3 separate regions of the Homo sapiens genome follow, and all the other regions are linked to region 3. Evidence: fine-mapped expression QTL. A gene starts in region 3. Each other region holds a variant in brackets. All regions are shown on one strand. Distances are between the middles of the regions. Region 1 has its middle 21 kb from the start of OR2B11. Region 2 has its middle 34 kb from the start of OR2B11. Region 3 holds the start of OR2C3 (olfactory receptor family 2 subfamily C member 3).

Region 1 (8,379 bases), 59 kb before region 3:
TCTTAGGGAATATACCTGAGTGAGCTGAAGGCAAGACCCTGAAACAATAAAATTGTTGTACAACAGGATTAAAATAGAGTCTTTGGCCACATCATGTTTTCATAGGCTTCCTATTAAAGAATGTGCAGAGGGACAGAATGATATCCATCCCAGGGGAATTTTTGTTCAAAATTTTATAGTTAATTACATGTGAAGCAATAACCTAAAAAGAATAAAATATCTAGGAATATAGTTAACCAAAGAAGTGAAAGAGCTCTACAATGAGAATTACAAAACACCTCTCAAAGAAATCAGAGAAGACATAAACAAATGGAACAACATTCCATGCTCATTGGTAGGAAGAATTAAAACTGCTAAAATGACCACACTGTCCAAAGTAAGTTATAGATTTAATGCTAATCTTATCAAGCCACCAATGACATTCTTCACTGAATTAGAAGAAACTATTTTAAAATTCATATGAAATCAAAAAAGAGCTTGAATAGCAAAGGTAATCCTAAACAAAAAGAACAAAGCCATAGGCATCACAACTATATTGTAAGGCTACAATCATCAAAACAGCATGGTACTGGTTCAAAAACAGATACAAGAAACCAAAGGAACAAAATAGAGAGCCCAGAAATAACATTGCAAACCTACAACCATCTGATCTTTGACAATGCTGACAAAAACAAGCAATGGGGAAACGATTCCCTATTCAATAAATGGTGCTGGGATAACTGGCTAGCCATATGCAGAAGATTGAAACTGGACCCCTTCCTTACACCATATACAAAAATGAACTCAAGATGGATTAAAGATTTAAATGTAAAACCTAAAACTATAAAATCCCTGGAAGATAACCCAGAAAATACCATTCTGGACATAAACCCTGGCAAAAATTTCATGACAAAGATGCCAAAAGACACCAAACAATTATTGCTCTTTTTGCAATAAGAGCAAAATTGACAAATGAGATCTAATTAAATGTAAGAGCTTCTGTATAGCAAAAGACTCTATAAACAGAGTAAACAGACAGCCTACAGAATGTGAGAAAATATTTGCAAACTATGTATATGACAAAAGGTCTAATATGAAGAATCCATAAGGACCTTAAACAAAGTTACAAGCAAAAAAAAACAAACAAACCCAAAAAACAAAGAACAACCCCATTAAAAAGTGGGCAAAAGACATGAACAGACACTTTTCAAAAGAAGACATACATGTGACCATTCAGCATATGAAAAAGTGCTCAACATACATGGGGCACAGTGGCTCACACCTATAATCCTAGCACTTTGGAAGGCTGAGGAGGGAGGATCACTTGAGCCCAAAAGTTCAAGACCAGCCTGGGCAACACAGTGATGTAGCGGGACGAGCTGCAGACAAAACCTCTCAGACACCGAGTGGTAGAAGGAAGGGCTTTATTCAGCTGGGAGCATCAGTAAACTACTGTCTTAAAATCTGAGCTCCCTGAGTGCACAATTTCTGTCCCTTTTAAGGGCTCACAACACTAAAGATTTTACATGAAAGTGTCGTGACTGATTTGAGCAAGCAGGGGGTATGTGACAGGGGCCGCATGCACCGGTGGTCAGAGTGAAACAGAACAGAATGGGAGGTTTCACAATGTCCTTCCATACAATGTCTGGGATCTATAGATAACATCAGTTGCTAGGTCAGGGGTGGAATTTTAACTACTAGGTTTAGGCCAGGCAGGCCCAGGCCTGGTTTCGGGTCTGATTTTGGGTCTGGTGCCTGGCGCCAGGCTGCCTGCCTTTGGTTTCACTTCCTTGGTTTTTTCTTAAAACAGGTACTGAGTATAAAACAATATAAAACAGTATGAGAGGGTCTCTCTCTTCTCTCAGTGAGATTCCATCCCTACAAAAAATATAAAAATTATCCAGGCATGGTGGCTACTTAGGAAGCTGAGGTGGGAGGATCACCTGAGCCTGTGGAGGCAGAGATTGCAGTGCTCAAACCACTGCACTCCAGCCTGGGTGACAGAGTGAGACCCTATCTCAAAAAATAAAAAAAAAGCTCCACATCAGAAAAATGCAAATCAAAACCACAATGAGATACCATCTCACACCAGTCAAAATAGCTATTATTAAAATGTCAAAAAAATAATAGATGCTGGCAAGGTTGTGGAGAAAAGGGAACTCATATACGTGACTGGTGGGAATATAAATTAGTTCAGCTCTTGTGGAAAGCAGTTTGGTGATTTCTTAAAGAACTCAGAACTACCATTTGACCCAACAACTATTCACAATAGCAAAGACATGGAATCCATTTAAAAGCCCATCATCCGTAGACTGGAGTTTTTAAATGTGGTACATATAGACAATGGAATACTATGTAGCCACAAAAAGAATGAGATCATGTCCTTTGCAATAACATGGATGGAGCTGGAGGTCATCATCTTAAGCAAACCAACACAGGAACAGAAAACCAAATACTGCATGTTCTCACTTGTAAGTGGAAGCTAAACTTTGAGTACATGTGGCCACAAAGAAGGGAACAATGATCACCAGGGCCTACCTGAGGGTGAAGGGTAGGAAGAGGGTGAGGATCAAAAAACTACCTATCAGGCACTATACTTAGTACCTGGATGACAAAATAATCTGTACACCAAACCCCTGTGATGTGCAATTTACCTGTATAACAAAGCTGCACATGTATCACTGAACCTAAAATAAAAGTTTAAAAAAACCAAAAATACCCATAAATGTTGAGAGAACAAAAAAAGTTCAGAATGATAACATCAGTATTATACCATTTATGTAAAGTTTTAAAGTGTGCAAAAATACTTTATTATTTTTGAATACATGTATGAATTAAAATGAATTTGAATATATGTTTGAAAATGATAAACATAAAATTTGTTTTACCTCTGTGGAAAGAGGGAAATAATATGTTCTCAGGATCTTTGAATATACCTATGTTTTATTTCATAAAAGACCTGGAACATGTAATGCAGATGTTAAAATTTTATAAAGCTGAGTGGTGGTTAGTCTGTCCATTGTTATCTTATTTTGTCTATGTATCTATAAATCCAAAATATTTTATAAGTTTAAAAAATCTACCAACATAATGTCAAATAATCAGTTTTACTGACATTTTCTTGAATTGGCTGAAATAAACAGGTTTTTTGAAAAAAATTACATGTGAAGCAGTATACTTTAAACATTAAACACATCACTTCAGTAGAAAATTGAGAAGTTATTTGGATGGATAGATTTTTATTTTCTTGCCATGGGGGCAACTTTATGGTATCCTTATGAAATACTGTATTTCACAGTACAGTTTTTCTTGAACTGTACTTTTTCTACAATGAAAACCATTATTTTGTTCCAGTCTTCCAATGTTAACTATTATCACCACCATTCAGAGAACTTCAGAGAGGACGAAACTGCTTAGTTTTACTTTATGAACAAGTTATTGGCTAAAATGACTTTTCCCCACCATGGGGGAGCTGGTGATGAGCTTATGCACTCCCAGCTTGGAGAGACAACTGTCACAAATACATGTTTTTTATTTGTATAAATGTAAGGGATACAAATGCAGTTTTGTTACATGGATATATTGCATAGTGGTAAAGTCTAGGTGTTGGCTGTAACCATCGTGCAAATAGTGTACATTGTACCCATTAAGTAATTTCTCATCCCTTATCCCTGTTTCACCCTTCTGAGGCTTCACTGTCTATTATTTTATTTATTTATTTATTGAGACGGAGTTTCACTCCTGTCCCCCAGACTGGAGTGCAGTGGCCTGATCCTGGCTCACCGCAACCTCTGCATTCTGGGTTCAAG[C/T]GGTTCTCCTGCCTCAGCCTCCCGAGTAGCTGGGATTACAGGCGCTCACCACCAAGCCCGGCTAATTTTTGTATTTTTAGTAAAGACGGGGTTTCACCATGTTGGCCAGGCTGGTCTTGAACTCCTGACCTCGTGATCGGCCCACCTCGGCCTTCCAAAGTGCTGGGATTACAGGCGTGAGCCACCGCACCCGGCCATTCACTATTATTTCACACTCTTCCTCCATGTGTACACATTATTTAGCTCCACTTACAAGTGAGCACATGTGGTATTTGACTTTCTGGTTCTGAGTTATTTCACTCCCACATCTAAAAACTCTCCACCAATCTTATTTTATACTCACCTGATTTGATTCACAAAAGAGGCCGTTCCGTTCCTCGGCCTGCAGGTCTCTACCACCTTTTTGGCATTCTGTGGTTCAAGTCGAGATGGTTGGTTGTAGAGATTGCAGAAGACTTACATTTTATACATAGAGGAGTCTGGGTTCCTATGGCAGTATCAATTATGACAACTTTAAGCAAGAAAAGGTGGGAAAAATAGCAGAGGTTACAAAGAGGTTGCTTGAGGGAGACAAAAGGAAAGAAAGAAAGCTGTTAATAAAATATGTCATTTTGACAATGAAGTCAGAATCCTTGCAACAAAAGAATAATGTATTTACTTTTTTCTTTTCTCTTTTTTTTATTTGAAGACAGAGTCTCCCTCTGTTGCCCAGGCTGGAGTGCAGTGGAATGATCTCAGCTCACTGCAGCCTCCGCCTTCCAGGCTCATGCGATTCTCCTTCCTCAGCCTCCTCCCGAGTAGCTGGGATTACAGGCATGCACCACCGTACTGGGCTACTTTTTGTACTTTTATTAGTGACGGGCTTTCACTGTGTTGGCCAGGCTGGTCTCAAACTCCTGGCCTCAAGTGATCCGACTGCCTTGAACATGAGAACACAGGTTGAGCCACAGCATGGTGCAGCTGCTCCAGTTTAGACGGAGCTCAGCGGCAGCTCCTGCTCCCAGGTGGATGCAGCACTGTGGACTTTGGATCGCTCCATCCGATAGTGTTAGCTAGTGTTAGCGGCAGCAAAGATGGCGGTGGTGCTCTGTCGTGAAGGTTGCATGTGTGCGGGCGGAACCAAGGCCTGCTGATGTCCTCCTGCCTCACTTTTTCCCTTTGGAGGGAGGTTGCAGCCAAGGAGATCCCTGTTGGCCCTGAGCTGTGCTGGGCTGGGGAATAGGTTAACACAGGTCCAATGCTTCCAGTGCTTTCTATACGGCCATCCTCAGTTTTCCTGCTTCAATGGGCTGCTGAACCTTGCTATTTGTACCCTGGAGCTCTCCCAGAGTTATTTTTATCTGGGAGTAGTTAAATCATTGTTCTTGTTGGGGAGCAACGGCTGGGACCACGTAATCTGTTTCCTTACTGAAGACTTCCCATTTTCTCCCAATCTCTTCTTATAAGAACACCAGTCATATTGGTGAATTTTAGGGTTTAGAGCCCTCCCTAATAGCCTCATTGTGACTTAATTTCTTCTTTAAAGACCCTATCTTCAAATATAGTCACATTCTGTGTTCCTGGAGGTTAGGCTTTCAATATAAAAAATTGAGGGAGACACAATTCAACCCATTAGAAGGTGCATTTTTACATGTTTTTATGTAAGAACTCTTAGCATCTTAGGGATGCTAAGATGATACATAGCATCATCTTGATATGTAGCATCATCATGATAGCATCATCATGATATGTAGCATCTTAGGGATGCTAACTCTTAGCATCTTAGGGATGCTGATGCTGTAATGTTTGCTTATAGAATAGATATCTTTCTTATGGTGACACTCTGGATTTATTTTTCTGCCTTTAAAGCACTGACACATTTAAGTTTTGTTGTAGTTTTAAGTGTAAAATGATGTTTTATTTCATGTGACTTTTGCCATTTTAAAAACATCATTTATTGAATTAATGTGTTCTCCATCCTCATTTTATGCTAATCTCCCCACATATATTAGTACTAGTTTTATATTCTCAATGATTTGTAATGTTTTTTGGCAACTCAACATTATTTTAGTTTCAGTAAATTTATGCTGATATTTGAAAGGAAGGGTTTTTTTTTTTTTTAAGAGATTGCTAATACCAGTAGGAAGGGATGATGGATATGAAATAGCAACAAGAAGGAATGTCCCATACAAGGGAGTCCCAGGCATGTGAGAGGAGGGAAGCCCATAGCACATAGCATGGACTTCGACAGGAGTAGAGCCCCTCTTTCCACTGAGACAGGGCAAAGGAGCATAGCAACCGAGGCTGCAGAGAGCCTGCAGAGTTAGAATGGGAATGGAGGAATTCTCTGTCTTATGAATTCTGTTTTCTCTAATCAAGTAGGAGGCTGGCTCTTTTACTGAGAAGTGATTGCTTCCTAAGTTGTATGTAAATGAGTTCCTCTAGATATTGCTATGCACCGACTTATACCATATAAACTCTATATTAATATAAGTGAAGATTTTGGTATGCACAATGGGCAATTAGAGTAAATCAATATTCCCTATAGTTTTCCACCTAATTATCACAGGGAGTTCTGTTTGTTCATTCATTCAGCCATTCTCTCTTTCCATCTCTCCATCCATCTACCATCTACCATCTACTACCTATCTCCTATCTATCTATCTATATATCATCTATCTATTATCTATCAATCATCTATGTATCATCATCATCATCATCTGTCAACTATTTATTTATCTGCAACTCTACTCTAGGTAAGGATGATATAATGGAAAAGGTGATGGGTGAGGTGCCTGTTCTCACTTAGTTTATATCCTGGGTTGGGGAGACTTTAACTAGTAAGCAAACAAGTAGGTTCAAAAGATAATTTCATACAATGGGAGGAGTTATGAGAAAAACAAGAGTATAGTATAAATGAGTTATAATCTCTTACACTATTTATTTTGAGACTCAAAAATTTTCCAATATTTTATTAGCAGAACTTGTTCAATCTGGTTCCTGTGTCCAGATGATGGACCTGTTATTCTTCCTTCATCACCTCTTGCTCCAGGCCTGAATCCACAACTGTTTCTCCCAAGAACTTCTTTTTAGTGGAGAAGGGATTTAGTAACTAAATAATGGGTGTTGGGAATGCTCAGTGCTACTGCAGTGTTAACGTTTTTAGGTGTTCTCAGCTAAGAGCTAGGAAATATGCATGCATGAACACACACACACACACACACACACACACACACACACTTCTATATCTACATAAATCTCCATGTGTATTTTTTTTTTTTTTTTGAGACGAAGTCTCGCTCTTGTACCCCAGGCTGGAGTGCAATGGCATGATCTCAGCTCACTGCAACCTCCAACTCCTGGGTTCAAGCGATTCTCCTGCCTCAGCCTCCCAAGTAGCTGGGATTACAGGCGCCTGCCACCATGCCCGGCTAATTTTTGTATTTTTAGTACAGACGGGGTTTCAGCATGTTGGCCAGGCTGGTCTCAAACTTCTGACTCCAGGTGATCCGCCCGCCTCGGCCTCCCAAAATGCTGGGATTACAGGTGTCCACCACCGCACCAAGCCCTCTGTGTGTATTTTAAAATCATGAATATATACTGATATTTCCAATTAAAATTCAATACCATAAGATGTATTGTAGTCTTCCTCTTTCCTTATATGGAATCTCCCTTTCCAATAGTGAAAAACTAGGCCTCCAGTAACCTCAATATATTTACTTATTTTCTCAATCTGTCAGTATATAACTTATCTTTGGCAACCTGTGCCATGTCTTTGGCACTGGTCATGTTGGCTAACACCCTTCAGATGCTCCCTCATGTTCTTTCTGTTCTTGGAAACACACTGGCTGAGCCCCTAGCTATCCCCCAGCCCTAACCCTGGCAGGCATACCAAGTGAGGACCCAGTAAGCTAGAAGCCATGTTTTTAAGAGACAATATGAAGCTAGAAAAGATACAGAATAATTTGTTAAACAAAACACCAAAAGCAGTATTTATAAAGGAAACCATCAGTAAATAGGACTGCGTTAAAATTAAGTACTGTATCAAAAGACAAGAGTAAGAGCAGGGAAAAGCAAGCCCATGATTTGAAAAAAAAGATATTTGTATTACACATAACTGATAAAGGTTTCATAGCCAAGCCACATGAAAAATTTGTATAAATAGATAGGAAAAAAGGTAAGAATCCAATAGAAAAACAGGCTACTTAAAAAGACATTTTTTAAAAGAGGCTATCTAAATAGTCAATGAATTTATGAGAAGATTCCCAACTTATTATTAGTCAGTGAATTGCAAATGAAAACACATAGAAGGATTACTAACATGCCTGAGGCCTGAAATTTAAAACTTGACCATACCACATGATGGAGAAATGGAGCCAAGAACGCCATTCACTATTAGTGGGAGTATAATTGTTATGACATTTTAGAAAACTATTGGGCATTTTTTTTTTCATTAAATGTGAACATGTGCATTTCCTAAGGTCATGATTTTACTTCTGGACAGACATTTAACAGGTATGAGTGCCTGTCTGCACAAAAAAAAACCCTACAATAATGCTCACAGCAGTCTTATTTGTATCAGCCCAAAACAGAAAATGATCCAATATCTGTG
Region 2 (8,379 bases), 46 kb before region 3:
AAGAACTGAAGTTTCCTGTGGCCTCTTAATGTGGCAATAACAGACCCAAGAGTTTCCTATATCAGTGTCCCCCTTACCTCATTATTTCTTATATTGGAGGATGTACATTCTTTGGGGATGCTTGCCTCCCCACATTTTAATGATTTTAATTTTGTGAGTCCAGGACCAAATGAAGAAATTGATCTACTTCTGTTTTGACATAGAACCCAGAAATTAATTCTCTTTTCAAGAATACCTGAGCCCCACATTTGGGAACTTTCTGTGTTGCCTCCCCGGTGAGTTTTGTGTTTGTGTGTGTTGTGGGGGGCGGGGGGCGGGGGGGGGGCGGTGGCCGGGCCAATCTCTAGATGACACGAGTCCCTGAGGTCTTAGCTCTGTGAACAAGCTGATGTCACTTTTCCTCATGCCCCTAGATGACTCCAAATCCCCAAGGTGAGATGGCATTGAAGTTGTCCTCCTATCCACTTAGTATGAACCAATCAAATGACATTGTCTATATTCTCAAAGCTCTTAGAACTAAGTGTGCTTTCCTTTATCCCTGGGGCTGGTCTGCCATCTCCTTGACCCTAGACTACCTGTATATATGGACGTGAGATAAAACATGTTGACTTGAAATGTGGCACTATGCCACACCACTCACTTAGCTTGTCATTCCTGCCCACAGTTCATCATTTCTCTTCCAAGCTCTGCTACTTAAAGGCTTATTAACACTTAAATGGGACAGACATTATTTTTGTGCTCAATCTCCTTTCAGGGTTTTCAGTGTAATTTCCTCTGGAAGATCCAGAAACTAAAAGGGACAAGAATTAGCTGCCTTATCCATGAGAAAACTCCTGGTTGGTCTCCGGAATTGAAGTAAGGAGGGTTGACAGAATCATAGGTCTTCTACTTTCTGGGAAGAACAAGGGTGAGATTTTAATACAAGCTTTGTCGTGGCAATGAGATTTATATCTGTATCTTCAGTCGTCTGTATGCAGATATAGAGTTATCTTGTAATAGTTTTGATTAGAGTTTATATCTGTTAGAACACCAGAGTAACGGGTTTCTCAATGCCAACTCGCAATTTGGAACTCCATTTTGGAAAAGAGACATTGTATCCAACTCGGAAACAATCAAATGCACCAAATTCTAGCAAAGTGTATCTAAAGTAGATTAGGAGTGATTATGTGATTATCCATTATCCATTTGTCCATTGCTAGCTGAGCCAATCCTAGGGCCTCTTCTGAGCCTACATGCACACACAATAAACCAATCTTTTTAGTCTCTTGATAAAATGATAGCTGATTTGAACAGAGAACCGTGTAATTCTGTTTTCGCACAAATCAAGCATTGCAAATCTCTGGCGATTTTGAGAGTGATCACAAGCTTCTCTCTGGAAACTGCTCATGATGATGGATTTTATTGTTAGGATTGTAATGTGTAGGTTAATGGGAGTGCTGTAATGAGTGATCAACTTTAAACAACTACAGCTTTAAGTGGGTGAGAAATAGGAACAGGGAGGAAGGCAGAATGAATGGAAACTTGGGTTAATGCATAGGGCTGGCACTATAAACCTTGCTCTGATATGAAGCTGTAGTGCAAGCATTGGCTATTCTTTCTTCTTCTCTATTATTGAGGTTGATCATCTCTAACATGGAGATTCTAATGCCTGGCCTGTCCACTTTGCAGGGCTGCTGTGATGATGGTCTGAAACTAGAGTGTGAAAGCTCTGTAAAAGTCTAATGTACGCTAATGTGAAAGGGTTGTGATTGTTTATGTTGTGCTCTATACCTAAGCCAGGCAAAAATAGCTCTATTGCTTGGCATTGTTAAATCCTTTTCAGTAAGCACAGAGAACCATTTGGTGGATTCTCCTCTATATGGGTTGGTACAGTTTTGGGCATAACCTTCAGCCAGAGAATCAACCCAATTCAGACCTTGGCGTCTAAGTTTTCAAAATTAGTAAGCATTTATAGTATTATGTGTCAACTAAACTATTAAAGGTATTTGGGCATTTCTAAGAGCTGTATTCCTTGCAATTTCATGGTTCTGAACTAAAGAGCTAAGAAATGTGAGAAGACAGGATGCATTAATTTATAGTTGAATACCTGTTAGGTGAAACAGAGAAGAGCCTCTGCATATTTGTCATAAGGGTGAGCAGTGGGACATTTTGGATTGAAAGAATAAAGCATTGTGAAAAAAAGTAGTTTTGAACAGATGACTACAAGGTAAATTTGCAGTTTTGGTTAAGGAGTCAGACCCTAAGTGATAAACTTTGCTGAGATCACCCAAAGTGATCACAACTTTATCACCCAAAGTGATAAAGTTGCTGAGCAATTTGTGTAGCTTGTCATTGCCACTCTTGAGGTCTCCTGAACCTGGGAGAAAACTTATGATAGGTCTGAGGATACAGAAGTACAAGTTGTTCATAATAACCAACACCTGTAAAATGTGTGTCTGTGAAAGTCTCCTTTGTGAGTACTCAGGAAGCCTCTGAAAGTCTTCCATTCTTTGACACTTGGCTGGCTACTTCTGATAGACCCTGCCTCTTTTACCCTTTCATAGGGCTTTGCAGAGGGTCCGGTGCCTGGACCAATGGATGGGAACTACAGAATTCCCAATTGCAGCTCCAACAGGATACAGCTCATAGCATGTCAGTTGTCAGGATGGACAGGTGGTGACAGCGGCTGCATAGACACATGTCCTTCAATGTGTTTCTGTGCCCTCATTCCCACAGCTTCCTTCTTGTGTGTTGCCCAGATGCCGTTTGCTATTATCATAGCAGATACAAGCCTGGGTGGATATTGGCTGTATAAGGCAGAGTCCCCATCAAAGCCCTTGGCTTAGACTGTGGAAATCCTCAATAGCTGAAAGTGCTCAGGGTATATACTCAGTGTCACCAGTTACATAGACATGTGAGGTCTGAGTGGGGACTTAGAGAAGATCTAGCCTCTTTCCCATGTTGCACAAGGAAAAGCCAAGTTAGAGAGAGATGAACTGAATAGCAGGCCATACATTTGCAGACCTGTGTTTTACAGAGGCAGAATTAAACCTATCATCACAGTCCTTTCTTGTAGGGTCAAAAATCACTGTGTTTCATCTTAATAAAATTACATGCCATTAAGGAGTTGCCTGGTACGTACATTCATGGCTTCCTTAAGCATCACCCATAAATGTGGTCCTTCATGACTTTGTATATACTACCTCCTCTTTGTGAAACATATTTAGCTCAATCTGCCACATGTCAAATTCTTACTTATTATTTGCAACAACCAAAAACAACTCTCAGACTCAGCAGTCTCCCTTAATACAAACTGTTCTACACAGGCCCTCCTGATCACTTGGGAGTGATCTGCATAATACTCAGCCTTTTAACGCATCTTCTTTTAGAGAACTTTCTCTTTCTCCCTTCTTTGTCATTATTCATACACATTATTCACCAAGGAGGGAAGCTCCAGAGTCAATTCATCCCGTCTTCCTGGGGCATCAGGCACACGACTTTGCATGTAACAGGTTTCAATAAGTCTATTCTAAAAAAGCAAAGAAAGGGCAAATGGCTCTCTTAACTTCACAGACCTGTAAATGGAAATTGGAGAGTGCCAGATCATCTGCATGTGCCCCCTTATCTAATTCTTTGGTTGTTTCTCTGTAATAGCTGGTGGATTATGGGAAAGGACAATGCCAGTTACCTACAGGCATTCATCCTGGTGGGCTCTTCTGATCGGCCTGGACTGGAGAAAATTCTCTTTGCTGTTATCTTGATCTTCTGCATCCTGACCCTGGTGGGCAACACTGCCATCATCCTCTTGCTGGTCATGGATGTCAGGCTCCACACACCCATGTACTTCTTTCTTGGGAATCTGTCTTTCTTAGATCTCTGCTTTACAGCAAGCATTGCCCCTCAGCTGCTGTGGAACCTGGGGGGTCCAGAGAAGACCATCACCTACCACGGCTGTGTGGCCCAACTCTACATCTACATGATGCTGGGCTCCACCGAGTGCGTCCTCCTGGTTGTCATGTCCCATGACCGCTATGTGGCCGTCTGCCGGTCCCTGCACTACATGGCAGTCATGCGCCCACATCTCTGCCTGCAGCTGGTGACTGTGGCCTGGTGCTGTGGCTTCCTAAACTCCTTCATCATGTGTCCTCAGACGATGCAGCTCTCCCGGTGTGGACGTCGCAGGGTGGACCACTTCCTGTGTGAGATGCCTGCTCTTATTGCCATGTC[T/C]TGTGAGGAAACCATGCTGGTAGAAGCGATTCACCTTTGCCCTGGGGGTGGCTCTCCTCCTGGTGCCGCTCTCCCTCATCCTCATCTCCTATGGCGTGATTGCAGCCGCGGTGCTGAGGATGAAGTCAGCAGCAGGGCGAAAGAAAGCCTTCCACACCTGCTCTTCTCACCTCACAGTGGTCTCTCTCTTCTACGGAACCATCATCTACGTGTACCTGAAGCCGGCCAACAGCTACTCCCAAGATCAGGGGAAGTTCCTGACTCTCTTCTACACCATCGTCATTCCCAGCATCAACCCCCTCATCTACACTTTGAGGAACAAGGATGTGAAGGGGACCATGAAGAAACTTCTGGGGTGGGAGAAAGGGGCTGGGGAGCCTCAACGAGGGGAACACTCTAGTAATGTAGACAGTTTGCTGGAGTTACTCTCTTAGATGTGTCTGTGGCCATGTGGAGAACTAATATTCAAGGAGTAGAGTGAACGCGGGTGGGAAAATGCTTTCGAGTTTGACCCCGTCCTCTGCCCTCTGGATGTGAAGTGGTTTCCTTCTGTTTGAAGTTGCCTGCTTCAGGATATCTCTGCTGTATCTTGCACTTTCCTTGTCTTTTTGATTTATCCACAACTGCTGGGGACTTACAAAACTAATTCAATCACCCAAAGGCACTGGGCAGTCTGCAGATTATGTCATGGATGTCAAATAAAAATTGAGACAACATGAGTGGCCTTTTCTTCAAGCCCTTTTATTTGCTTCTGTGGCAGTTTTTCAAAGAGAGAGGGGTCAACATCAGTAAAGTTATAGTGCCCTGTCCTGGATACAGGTTGGTTCTGTATGAGTGGGGAATGTCCTTTGAGTTGCTTTTTGAAAAAGCAGAATTTGCTCAGAGTTATTTGCATCTTCTCCTTGACCTTTTCGCATAGCCAAAGTACCTACAAAAGAGCTGACTCTAGTCAGGAATGCAAGCCTTTGGGAAGAACAGAGCAAATGATACACATCCAGATAGAATGAATTTGTTCTCCTTAGCAGATTAAACAGCTGTAAATATTCTACTTCAAAGAGAGCTGTCCTATACTCAAATTAATTACCACCCCCAACCTCCACAAATAACTCTGATGACCAATCTTATAAAATCAGTGCATATTGGAATTGGACATTACTAAAAGCAGTGTTTCCAAAACTTGATCGTGCATCAGAACGCTTAAGGCACAAATTTCCAAGAACTCTCCAAATTTCCTGAATCTACAATGCCAGGTGTGGGTCTAGGCATCTCTGTCTTTAAAAAGCTCCCTAGGTGTTACTGATGATAGATTTTGAAATCATTGTTTTAGAGATAATAAAAATCCAGCTCCTCACATTACCCAGGACTCTTCCTGTAGCATTCTGAATCCCTGGCTGCCTTCACTGGGTATGAATGATCCTGTGCACCAGGCATGGGGAAGACAGTATCATCCATATCTGGACTTGGAACTGATTTATCTTCTCACCAGTTAGCTTTCGAAGCCTAGCCTTTTTCATCTGTATTATGGAGGTCATACTCTTCACCTTAGAGGGTTGTAGTAGAGATTAAGCAAGACAAAGTATGTTAAATATGAGGTGGGTGGTCTCTCAGTAATACTTTTTTTTTCATGTACCACAGGCATTGGGCAATCTATTCTTTTGTAGGTCTTATGCAATTGTTATTTAGATCTTGTTTTTAGTAAAATTCTGCTTCAGTATTTTTCCATTTATTATCTGCAAGATGCAAAATGTTCTCTTCCAGGTGTAGAAAACACCCTTTCCTTGCTTCTTTCAGATTAGGTAGATAGGATCCCTCACAAACTCTCAGAGAACTTTGCTGCCTACTTTTGCACCCTAATAGAAATGTGGGTTGGGGGGTGAGGTGGTGATTCAGGGTAAGTGTGCGGATTTCACATTATTTGTAGATAATACCAGTTCAGGCTTTTTGAATTATGGGGCAGAGCGTGTCCATAGACTATCACAGAGGCTAAATCTATGAGATAACAAAAATACCCAGACAGAAATGGAAAAAAATTTCAAAGTTGTTTAACCAGGTGTTTTGGAACTATTGCATAAAATATTTCAAAACCCATTGCTCCAGTCGTCTTCCTGTATAATAAAGATGATCATAGGACATGTGAAAAATAGATATTCTTTACCCTATTTGCAAATAATGTGACTAAAACACAGGGAGGCTAAGGGAGTTGCTTAAATTACAAGGCAAGTGAATACCTAAGATGGCATTCATTATTTGTCAAACATTTCCCAGGGAGTTTTTCATTCCATTAACTGCTTACACATTTAGGTCCTATGTGGTTAAATTTGGACTTTAGGACTGTTTAGTATCCAAATGCTATTTTTTATTGATAAAAAATTTAAGTTTTTCTTTTAAAATCTTTTCTTTTAAAGTTTTTCTTTTAAAATCATCCAAGGGCATTATCCTAGAGATAAAAGATTAAAAAAATTTGTCTGTTAATCCAAATACCAGTCCTTTTCTTTACTCCAATTCTCCTGGTTGAGTTTTTGTGGCATAAAAACTGCCAGGAAAGCACCCCCATACATCTAATGAGTATATTTTCAGCTGATGTGCAGGAGGGTACTGGCCACAGCTGTGAACATCATTTCCCACGTGTTTTTTTCTTTATATTAATGCTATTTCTGTGATAAATTTTTCAACGGATCAAGTTAAGGAGTATTCATTAAATGCATATAATACCCTGGAAATTGTAAGGAAATCAAAGAAATTGACATGGCTATAGGGGCCTGTCCACTCACAGTTCCTAGGGTACACTACCACTCGGACCCCTGTCATTTGTCCTAGCACTGACACTGCAACAGTGGACGTTTTCATCCAATAACACCTTTATCTTGGATACAGTTAGTGATGAGTTGGAGTTTCAGGGTATGGGGAGAGGAATCAATCAACCCATCTACAAATTGACCATTGACTTGTGTGCTTTAGTTTTGTCAACTTTAAAATAATAAGATTCAGAAAATATGATTAAATGTGGAGTTTATTTGAGGGCAAAGCTTGAGAATTAGCCACCTGAATAACACAGACTCCCAAGAAATGGAGTCAGTACTCCAAAGTGGAAAAGTTAAAGTTTACTGATTTAGGCAGAAGCAGAGAAATTTAGCAGAGTTACAGTAGTTCTCATATAAGGTCAGTAAATACATTATAGTGATTTGATTAGGTACAGCTGGCTACGTGCCAAGGAAAATTGTTTAACATGAACACTCCACAAGAAGGGGTAATGGTCTCAAGGAATCTTATCTCTGGTACGATTTAGTCTTTCCTAATCATTTACAGGAAAAAGCAGAAGTTGCAGCTGTATGCTACATGACTCAGGCCACATAGTCACACTCCTCTTAAGGCTCAAAATAATTTAAATTTCCAACAGCTGAAATTTGAATTACTTATTTCACAGTTTGATAAACTTGGTTAATCTGATTTCTCTGTAGGGACTTAAGAAACTGACTCAAAGGTCCTCCCCCCAAATTCTCATCAATTGGAAAGAAAATAGAATAAAATACTACTATAATAAAATTGGACAAAGTAATGATATAACAAACAGTAAGGTAGAGATGGAATAGTAAGAAAATATTTGACCAGAGAATTGAACTAGAACATAAAATTGTGAAATTCTGATGCTCTTTAAAAAGTATTTGGGAAGTACAGAAAGACAATAATGGTACCTGAAAAAAAGAATTTCTGTCTGAAAAAAAGTTTGTGTATGGAAGGCAGGTAGAGTAAGATTGATTGTAAATGATGTTAAATCTGGCTGGGTGCGGTGGCTCATGCCTGTAATCCCAGCACTTTGGGAGGCTGATCACTTGAGGTCAGAAGTTTGAGACCAGGCTGACCAACATGGTGAAACCCCATTTCTATTAAAAATACAAAAATCAGCCGGTCATGGTGGTGGGCACCTGTAATCCCAGCTACTTGGGAGGCTGAGGCAGGGAGAATCCCCTGAACTGGGTAGGCAAAGGGTGGATTCCTTCCTTCCTTCCTTTCCTTCCTTCCTTTTTTTCTTCTTCTGTCAGCAAGTATACTATGCTAGGACAATGGAGATACATATATGAAAGACTTAAAGAAAAAATGCAACCTGATGCTGAAAATGTGCCGTGGAATGAATGAGGTGGTACTTGATCATTGAAGTTTGGGTGTTTCTATAGG
Region 3 (8,379 bases):
TCACTCCTACGAAAGCAATCACAGGATTACATTAAGACATATGATCACATCAGTCTGCTGCTCAACACCCTCATTGTCTTGGTACAAGGCTTGCAGCTGCAGTTTGCTATACTTACAGTGCTTTCTCCCCAAGACATCCACACACCCCCTTCCTCACCTTCTTCAGGTCATTTTTGAAAAGTCACCTTCTGACTGAGGCCCTCCCTGACTGTGTTATATAATATTGAAAACCCTCACAACTCCCTTCTCTCTCTTTCCTGAATTATTTTTATATAAGGTGATAATCTTATAACAAATAAACTACTCTTATTTCTTTTGTTTGCTACCCGTCTCGCTCCACTAGATCATAAATTCCATGGAGCCATAGTTTTATCTTTTGTTTACCTCTGGGTCCCCAGTGTCTAACCCAGTGTCTGATACACAGTAGTCCCTTAATCAATATTCATGGACGTGCATCATGAAACAGGTTGCTAGAAAGGTTCTGTGGGGTGGAAGAGGCAGGACTAGAGTAATATGAAGGCAGAGTGGAAGGACTCAGCATAAACTTTCGGTAGTGTTGTCAGGAGAGAGCTCTTGGAACTGCCAGAGTCATGCAGAAGGGTCTGGACTATCCTCTGCTTTTGTACAGTTGGAATAAAACGAGCACGATTTAGCAGGGGCAGTGCATAAAGTCAGAAACTGGACAATTTCAGTGTGCTTCCGATGTCCCTGAAGACCTTTGGGGCCCTTCTTTGCAAAACATTAATTCTAGCCTGTATTTTAAAAAGGAGAATCAATTTATTATAGTTAAGATTCACCCAGATTAGGGGAACAGAGCAGCTGTGAACTTAACTATCAGCCTTCTTAAAATCCCAGAGAGTAGAATTTACCTATCCCTGTAACTGGAAGTCAATTAAACAAAATAGACATGAACAGACATGTGCATTCAGTTTTAAAAATACAGGTAGGTTTTCCATTGTGCATGTATAGAAATGAGGCTCAGAAAACTCTAGGCATTTGTTAAAATTCACACGTGGAAGCTGTCCCATTGTGGACTTACTGTGTCAGAATACTGAGACAATCATCTGGCCTGCATATAGTAGGCCAGGGAAGCATTAATACTATGGGAGAAGGCATCCTGGAGAATACATTCCAACCTCCTCCAAATCAGGGAGGCAAGCCGGGGGCGGTGGCTCATGCCTGTATTCCTAGCACTTTGGGAGGCTGAAGTGGGGGGAATCACTTGAGCTCAGGAGTTTGAGACCAGCTTGGGCAACATAGTGAGAGATTGTCTTTACAAAAAAATAAAATAAAATGACTGAGTGTGGCTGTGTGTGCCTGTAGTCTCAGCTACTTGGGAAGCTGAGGCTAGAGGATGGCTTCAACCCACGAGATCAAGGCTGTAATGAGGCATGATTGTGCTACTGCACTCCAGCCTGGGCAACAGAGCAAGACCCTGTCTCAAAACAACAACAAACAAACCAATCAGGGAGGTAGAGTTGAGACCTGTCAAAACGTGGATGTTTTCATCATGTGAATGTGAGAGAGAAAAGATGAACTGGGATTGGGAGAGTTAGGTACAACTGAGTCATGACAGTCAAAGTGGGTGTACTGTATATAGAGTCACCGCAGGTGAGCTGAAAAACAACAGGTTAAACTGACAACTGCATTATGACCCGTGGGTGTAAGTATATCCCATCTGTGGAAAGATAAAAATTTTGTTGACTCACAGTTGATAACATGCAGAAAATGTGTAAATGATGCTGAGAGGAACCACAAGGTCACTCATGAGGTAATAGTTTAGTAGAATTTTTGAGGAAAAAGAGATCTTTGTGGTGATCTGATCTACTTCTAGAAATGTTTAGTAACTTATCCAAAGCCCCTGGGCTGCTTAGTCATACTGGAGCTATACCCAAGATACTCAGATTCTTAGTACAAAAATAGCGTTTTCAGTAAAGGAAGAGGTTTGCTTACCCGCAGAGATTCACCAAAATTGTCACAATTAAAAACTCACTTTTCAAAATGCAACCCTATCCCAAACACTGTGCCATTAAGACAAAGATAGCATACTGAAAGTTAAGGAAACGTCTTGAGTTCAAATTTTGTCTGAGTTAACTAGGCAGTCACAAACTGTATCGCAGAACATAGGCAAGCTGCTAGAATATCAAAGGCCACATGAGGAAATCAGATCATTTAAACGGATCAGTGCTTATCAATTTTAACTGGAATTACCAGAAAGTCTGAGATCCAGTTTATCTTAAATACCATAAACAACAACAACAACAAACAAACGACAAAATTCAAAATGTCACTTACTAATGGTGAGCTAGCAGCATCATCTCTATTTATGCAGGGTGGAAATGTTGTAAAATGGGCAATATTTTATTAAAAAGACTGATAACATTCATGAATTCAATGCGTGTGGCATTAAAAAAATAGGAGTTTAGCCAGGGGATTTTAAAGCCCTGCAAATAGTGGAAATCTCTAAGTCGGTGGTAGCAGACGTGTTAGATTCTGTTCAAATTCATGTCTAAAGGACACATTATTAAGTATTTAAATCACAATGGGATTGAACTAGCAGAAAGCACTTAAAATACTTTGTAAGAAAATTGATAATCAAAGGAGTGAGAATGGCTCATGGTGTTTCCAGAATGAGAAAGTATATGCAGACCCTAAAGGGTGAAGTGTGACATAAAGTCCTTATAATTCTAAGACATTGATTGTAACCCCTGGAGCCTTCAGGAGGGAGCCTGAGGGTGATGGCATATATCAGGGGAGTAAAAGTGGAGGGAAAAAAGCTTTTGGGATTTCTTTCCCTATTGGATAATTATAACTTCATTGTATTACACACACAGAATTGTTTCTTTTTTATGACTGGAATATTATTTTAGTTTTTATACTGCCAAACTGCTTATGGAGCGTAAGAATCAAGTCTCTCTATCATGTAGTGAGGGAGATAGTCTGAGACATTTGCTCATTCTGTTAATTTTGATACATGCTGCTATAGACTCTTTTTTTAAAAAAACCATTGATTTTATTATTGGTGTATACATCAGTGATGAGATAATGTTTTTCTTAATAAGTTAAATTTATCAATTTATTTTTATTTTGGTAAAATACAGATAGCATATAAATTTATCATTGTAACTATTTTAAGTGTGCAAGTCAGTGGAATTAAGTTCTTTCACAAGACTGTACCATCACCTCTATCAAGCGTCAGAACTTTTTCATCACCTCAAATGGAAAACCTGTAGCCATCGAGCAGTCAGTCTTCATTTGCCAGCTCTCCCTAGCCCTGCCAGCCACTAATCTGCTTTCTCTATGTATGGATTTGCCTATTTTGGATATTACATATAAATGGACTTATATCATACATGTTATTGTGTCTGGTTTCTTTCATTTAACATGATATTTTCAAGGTTCATCTATGTTGTAGCGTGTATCAGTACTTCATTCTCTTTTAAAGAGGAATAATATTCCATTCTATGACTCTACCACCTTTTGTTTATTCATCTGTTGACAGACATTTGGGTTAGTTTGTTGATGAACATTTGAGTTGTTTCTACCTTTTGGCTATTGTGAATAGAGCTGCTATGAACATTCACATACAAGTTTTTGTTTGAACTCCGTTTCTGATTCTACTGGGTATACCTGGGAGTGGAATTGCTAGGTCTTATGGAAATTCTATGAACAACTTACTATTGAACCAGCAAACTTTTCTGCTGCAGCTAAACAGTCTTTACATTTCTACAAGCAATTTGTGTTCCAGTTTCTCCACATAATCACCAGCACTTGTTATTTTCCACTTTTTACAATCTTTTTTTTTTCCTTTATGGCCATCGTAGTGGATACAAAGTGGCATCTCATTGTGGTTTTGATTTGTGTTTCCCAGCAGCTAATAATGTTGTGCATTTTTTAATGTGCTTGTTGGCCACTTACTTGTCTTCTTTGGAAAAATGTCTATTCAAGTCTTTTGCCTATTTTTTGATTGGGTTGTTTGTCTTTTTGTAAGTGTTCCTTATATACTCTGAATATTATACCCTTATGAAATACATGATTTGCAAATATTTTCTCTCGCTCTGTATATTGTCTTTTAACTCTTTTGACAATGTCTTTTTGATGAACAAAAGTTTCTAATTTTGATGAAGACTAATTTATCTATTTTTTTTGTTGTTGTTTTTGGTTTTCATGTCATATTTAACAAAACAGTGAGACTTCCAAGGTCATGAAAATGTACTTCTATGATTACTTCTAAGAGTTTATAATTTTTTGCTCTTTCATTTAGGCTTTTGATGTATTTTGAGTTACGTTTTGTATATGCTGTAAGGTAGGGTCCAACTTCATTCTTTAGCAGGTGTCTATCCAGTTGTGTTGAACTGGATATATGTGTTGAAAGGATTACACTTTCTCTATTGACACCCTTGTCAAAAATCAAGTGACATAAACCCATAGACGTATGTTAGCTAGTATCTAGTCTAATGGGTCCAAATATGAACCGTATTCTGAAGACTCTCTGAATTATATTCCTGGCCAGCACCTCTATGCCAAACTTCAGATTCACATATCTAACTGCCTATACTACAGCTTCATTTGGATGGTGTTATGAACTGAATTGTGCCCTACACCCATTCATATGTTGAAACCATAACCCACAATGTGACTATATTTGGAGATAAGGCCCTTAAGGGGATAATTATGAGTAAATGAGTTTATAAGAGTGGCAGCCTAATGTCATAAGATTGGAATACTTATAAAAAGAGTAAGAAATACTAGCTATCTTCCCTCCCTGCCTACCCCAGTCTCTTTCTTTCCACACATGCACAGAGGAAAGGCCAGATGAGGACACAGCAAGCAGGCAGATGGCTGCGAGCTGGAAGGGAAGCGTCATCAGAAACCAACCCTGAGGGTACCTTGATCTTGGACTTCCAGTCTCCAGAACTGTGAGAAAATACATTTCTGTTGCCCGCCACCACCCAGTTTGTGGTGTTTTGTTATGATATCTCGACCTGCCTAATACAGATGGCTAATGCAAAGCTCCAGTGCAACACTTTAGAAAACGAACCCTGTTGTACACCTGACCTCCTCCAGCTGCAGTCTCCTCTTCTCAGTTGATGACAACTGAGAACTCTATTCTTCCATTTGCTTAGTCCAGAAGCTTGGAGTCCATGTGGTTCCAAACCCATGGCACCGTATGCCAATCACTGAAATGATGAGTTTTGTGGCAGAGAATGAGTTTATTTATGAGGGAGTCAAGTGAGAAAGCAGGAGAACAGGTCTCAAATCAGTCTCCCTGAAAATGGGATTTTAGGGATATTTATGGGATAGAGGAGTGAGGTGGTCCAAGGTGTAGGAAAATGTGATTGGGGTAGGAAAAAATGAGGTAATCAGTAATCTGCTCAAATATAGTCAAACTTCATGGCTCTTCATAGCACACATGTTCACAAAATGGTGTCATTAACATGATCTGAGGGTGGAGTTTTGGGCACTGTGACATCTAAAGGTCACCCATTGGATATTCACGCAGGTCCAGTTGGGGACCAGTGGTTTCAGCTAGCTTGAACTGGACAAGAGTTGACCCTCGTTCCTGAAAAGAACTTAAGCAATCGTTACCACAGTGATCTATACATGAGAGATGTTATCTCTGAGGAAACTGGTGGCAGTTTTATTTTTTTTTATTATATATTGCTTAGCTACGTGACCTTTAGCTATGAAAATCTTAAAATAAACTAGAAACAAGTGACCGACTAAAAGCAAGCGACTAAAGCCAGTGAGGCAAGTTAAGTCTGGGCCTAATCAGGGGAGCCCTCGGCCTCAAACATTGACCCCTCTCATTTCCACGACCTCTGTTCCTCACATATAATCTGTCAGCAAATCCTTTTGACTCTATTTTTAAAGATATCCAGATTACAATCATTTTTACAACGAATCACCCTGTCTCAGCTAGATTACTTGTATTAAAATCACAACGATTTTACTTGAAAACGCTTCACTGACTTCCTACCTGACTCTGTAAATACCCCATGTTGTTTCATAATCCATGAGTATCTACTGTCTGCGCCTTCCCCCTCCACACACATTACCTCTCTGATCCCACTTCCCACCACTTCTCCCATTCCTCCCTCTACTGTAGCCTCACAGGCTTCCTCGCTCCTCAAAAACGCCAGGCTCTCACTTGCCATGCTGCTTTTAGCTCTGCTGGTTCCTCTGCCTAGAATAGTCTCTCTCTCTCTCTCTTTTTGATACAGAGTCTCGCACTGTTGCCTGGGCTGAAGTGCAGTGGCCCAATCTCAGCTTACTGCAACCTCTGCCTCCCGGGATTACAGGCATGTGCTACCACGCCTGGGTAATTTTTTGTATTTTTAGTAGAGATGGGGTTTCACCATGTTGGCCAGGCTGGTCTCGAACTCCTGACTTCATCATCCACCTGCCTAAGCCTCCCAAAGTGCTGGGATTATAGGCTTGAGCCACCACGCCCAGCCAGTTTCCATCTCTTAACAAGTGCTTGGCTGAGGCCTCACATCTGTCCTTAACCTTCACCTCAGAGGCATTTTCCCTGATGGTGTTACTTCGAATTGTCAAACTTATCCTTTTCCCACTTCTGCTCTATTTCTCTCCGGAGCACTGTTCAGCACGTATTGAAGCATTCTACATGCTTATTTTTACTTATGTGTCTTGTTCTGTCAGAATAGAAGCTCATGAAGGCAGTGGTGTCTACTTTGTTTCTTCTGCATCCCCAGTTTCCGAGCATGGGCACGAAGATGCAGCTTAATAAAGGAGTGCTGATGTGTGAGCAGATGTATGAACTGAAGGTGGGGGCAGTGACCACTGTGGGGATGCAAGAGCAAGTGGGGGAGGGAGGCCTTACTTTATTGCAAACGAGCAAGCTTTCTGCAACGCGTCAGAAGGATTAGAAAGGATAAGACTGCACTCCGGGTTTTGCAGTTTCTCTTTTCTTTTCAATTCACGTAGAATACAATCACTCCACTACCAAATATTTGTCATTCATGCATTTCCTAAACTGTAACCACCTGCAAGGAAAAAAACTCAAGAGCCTTTGAGAAAGTTGTAATGTCTTGCATATCCTCATTTTTATATGTTCTCTATTTCTGTTTAGAAGGCATTGAGTTACTGAGTATTAAAAATAAAAGAAACTGCTGAAAAGAATTTTTTTCAAAAATGACACAAATATTCTTTTAAGTGACAGTTACACTACTCAAGCCTTTTATTTTTTCATCCAGACATTTCTTTACCCATTTGGTCATAGTTTTGTCTAAACCTATGCTGGTTTAAATTATAAATCCTGTGACTATTTTCTTGCAAAAGCTTTTTCAATTTTTTTTTTCCTATTGAAGCTATTAAAACAACAAGGAAATGCCTCTTGCTAGTTAGAGCAATGCATTGCTTATAATTAATGTCTTTTGGCAATTTCCCAGCAACTGAGCTTCTCAGAACTCAAGTTTCCATGGTATATCCTTGAGCAAAGCAGTAGGTTTGGCCTCCCATGTCATATGGATCACAGTTGGTGGGGTAGAATATTGAGAACTAATTCAGCTATTCATTATATGTCGGTATTTTCCGCACGGTCTCATCATGGCCTATATGGAGTACTCAGTCTCATCCCCAAATGGCTGAAACTGGGGTGCAGATGGAACCAAGGTGGAGCCCAAATAAAAAATCAGGTCTCCTGCACACAGAAAATGAATGGTGTTTTCAAATCAAACTACAAGTCAAAAAACACACAGACACTCCAAATTTGAGATGTTGGCCTGAAACCCGGCTGCTTCTTGAAATAGAAAAACCCTTAGGTGAGCAGTAATAGGGATTTCTATTTTTAAGAATGGCAGAGGACTCCTAGAAAAGATGGATAGAAAAACCTGGCTGAGCACAGTGGCTCACATCTGTAATCTCAGCACTTTGGGAAGCTGAGGTGGGCGGATCACTTGAGGTCAGGAGTTTGAGACTAGCCTGCCCAACATGGTGAAAACCTGTCTCTACAAAAAACACAAAAATTAGCCAGGCATGGTGGTGCGTGCCTGTAGTCCCAGCTACTCAGGAGGCTGAGGAGGGAGAATCGCTTGAACCCAGGAGGCAGAGGTTACAGTGAGCCGAGATTGTTCCACTGCAGTCCAGCCTGGGCAACAGAGTGAGACTCTGTCTCAAAAAAAAAGAAAAAAAAAAAAGGAAAAAGAAAAGATGAATAGACAAACTAATAACTAATAAATATGCTTTTTGTGTTTTCATACCGCAACTAATTTATTTTAGAAAAAATGCAAGCCAAGCTGGGCATTGTGGTGCATACCTGTAGTCCCAGCTACTGGGGAGGCTGAGGCAGGAGGATCATTTGAGCCCAGGAGTTCTAAGCTTTAGCATGCTCTGATCATGCCTGGGAATAGCCAGTTC

Evidence for each region. PIP is the estimated chance that this variant, and not a neighbour inherited with it, causes the effect.
Region 1: its variant is fine-mapped to the expression of OR2C3 in blood mononuclear cells (TOPMed, PIP above 0.99).
Region 2: its variant is fine-mapped to the expression of OR2C3 in monocytes (TOPMed, PIP above 0.99).

What each region holds. Positions count from the first base shown.
Region 1 is chr1:247,474,813-247,483,191 of GRCh38, forward strand. No RefSeq gene overlaps it. Among named protein-coding and RNA genes, the nearest start is that of OR2B11, 21 kb to the left of the region's middle. The variant C/T (reference allele first, on the strand shown) is at 3,789.
Region 2 is chr1:247,487,485-247,495,863 of GRCh38, forward strand. It overlaps the pseudogene OR2W5P. Among named protein-coding and RNA genes, the nearest start is that of OR2B11, 34 kb to the left of the region's middle. The variant T/C (reference allele first, on the strand shown) is at 4,207.
Region 3 is chr1:247,533,873-247,542,251 of GRCh38, forward strand. It overlaps OR2C3 (olfactory receptor family 2 subfamily C member 3), which reads right to left and starts at 2,568. Exons shown (of 3, transcript NM_198074.6): 1 at 2,296-2,568; 2 at 1-6. It also overlaps a transcript of GCSAML not described here.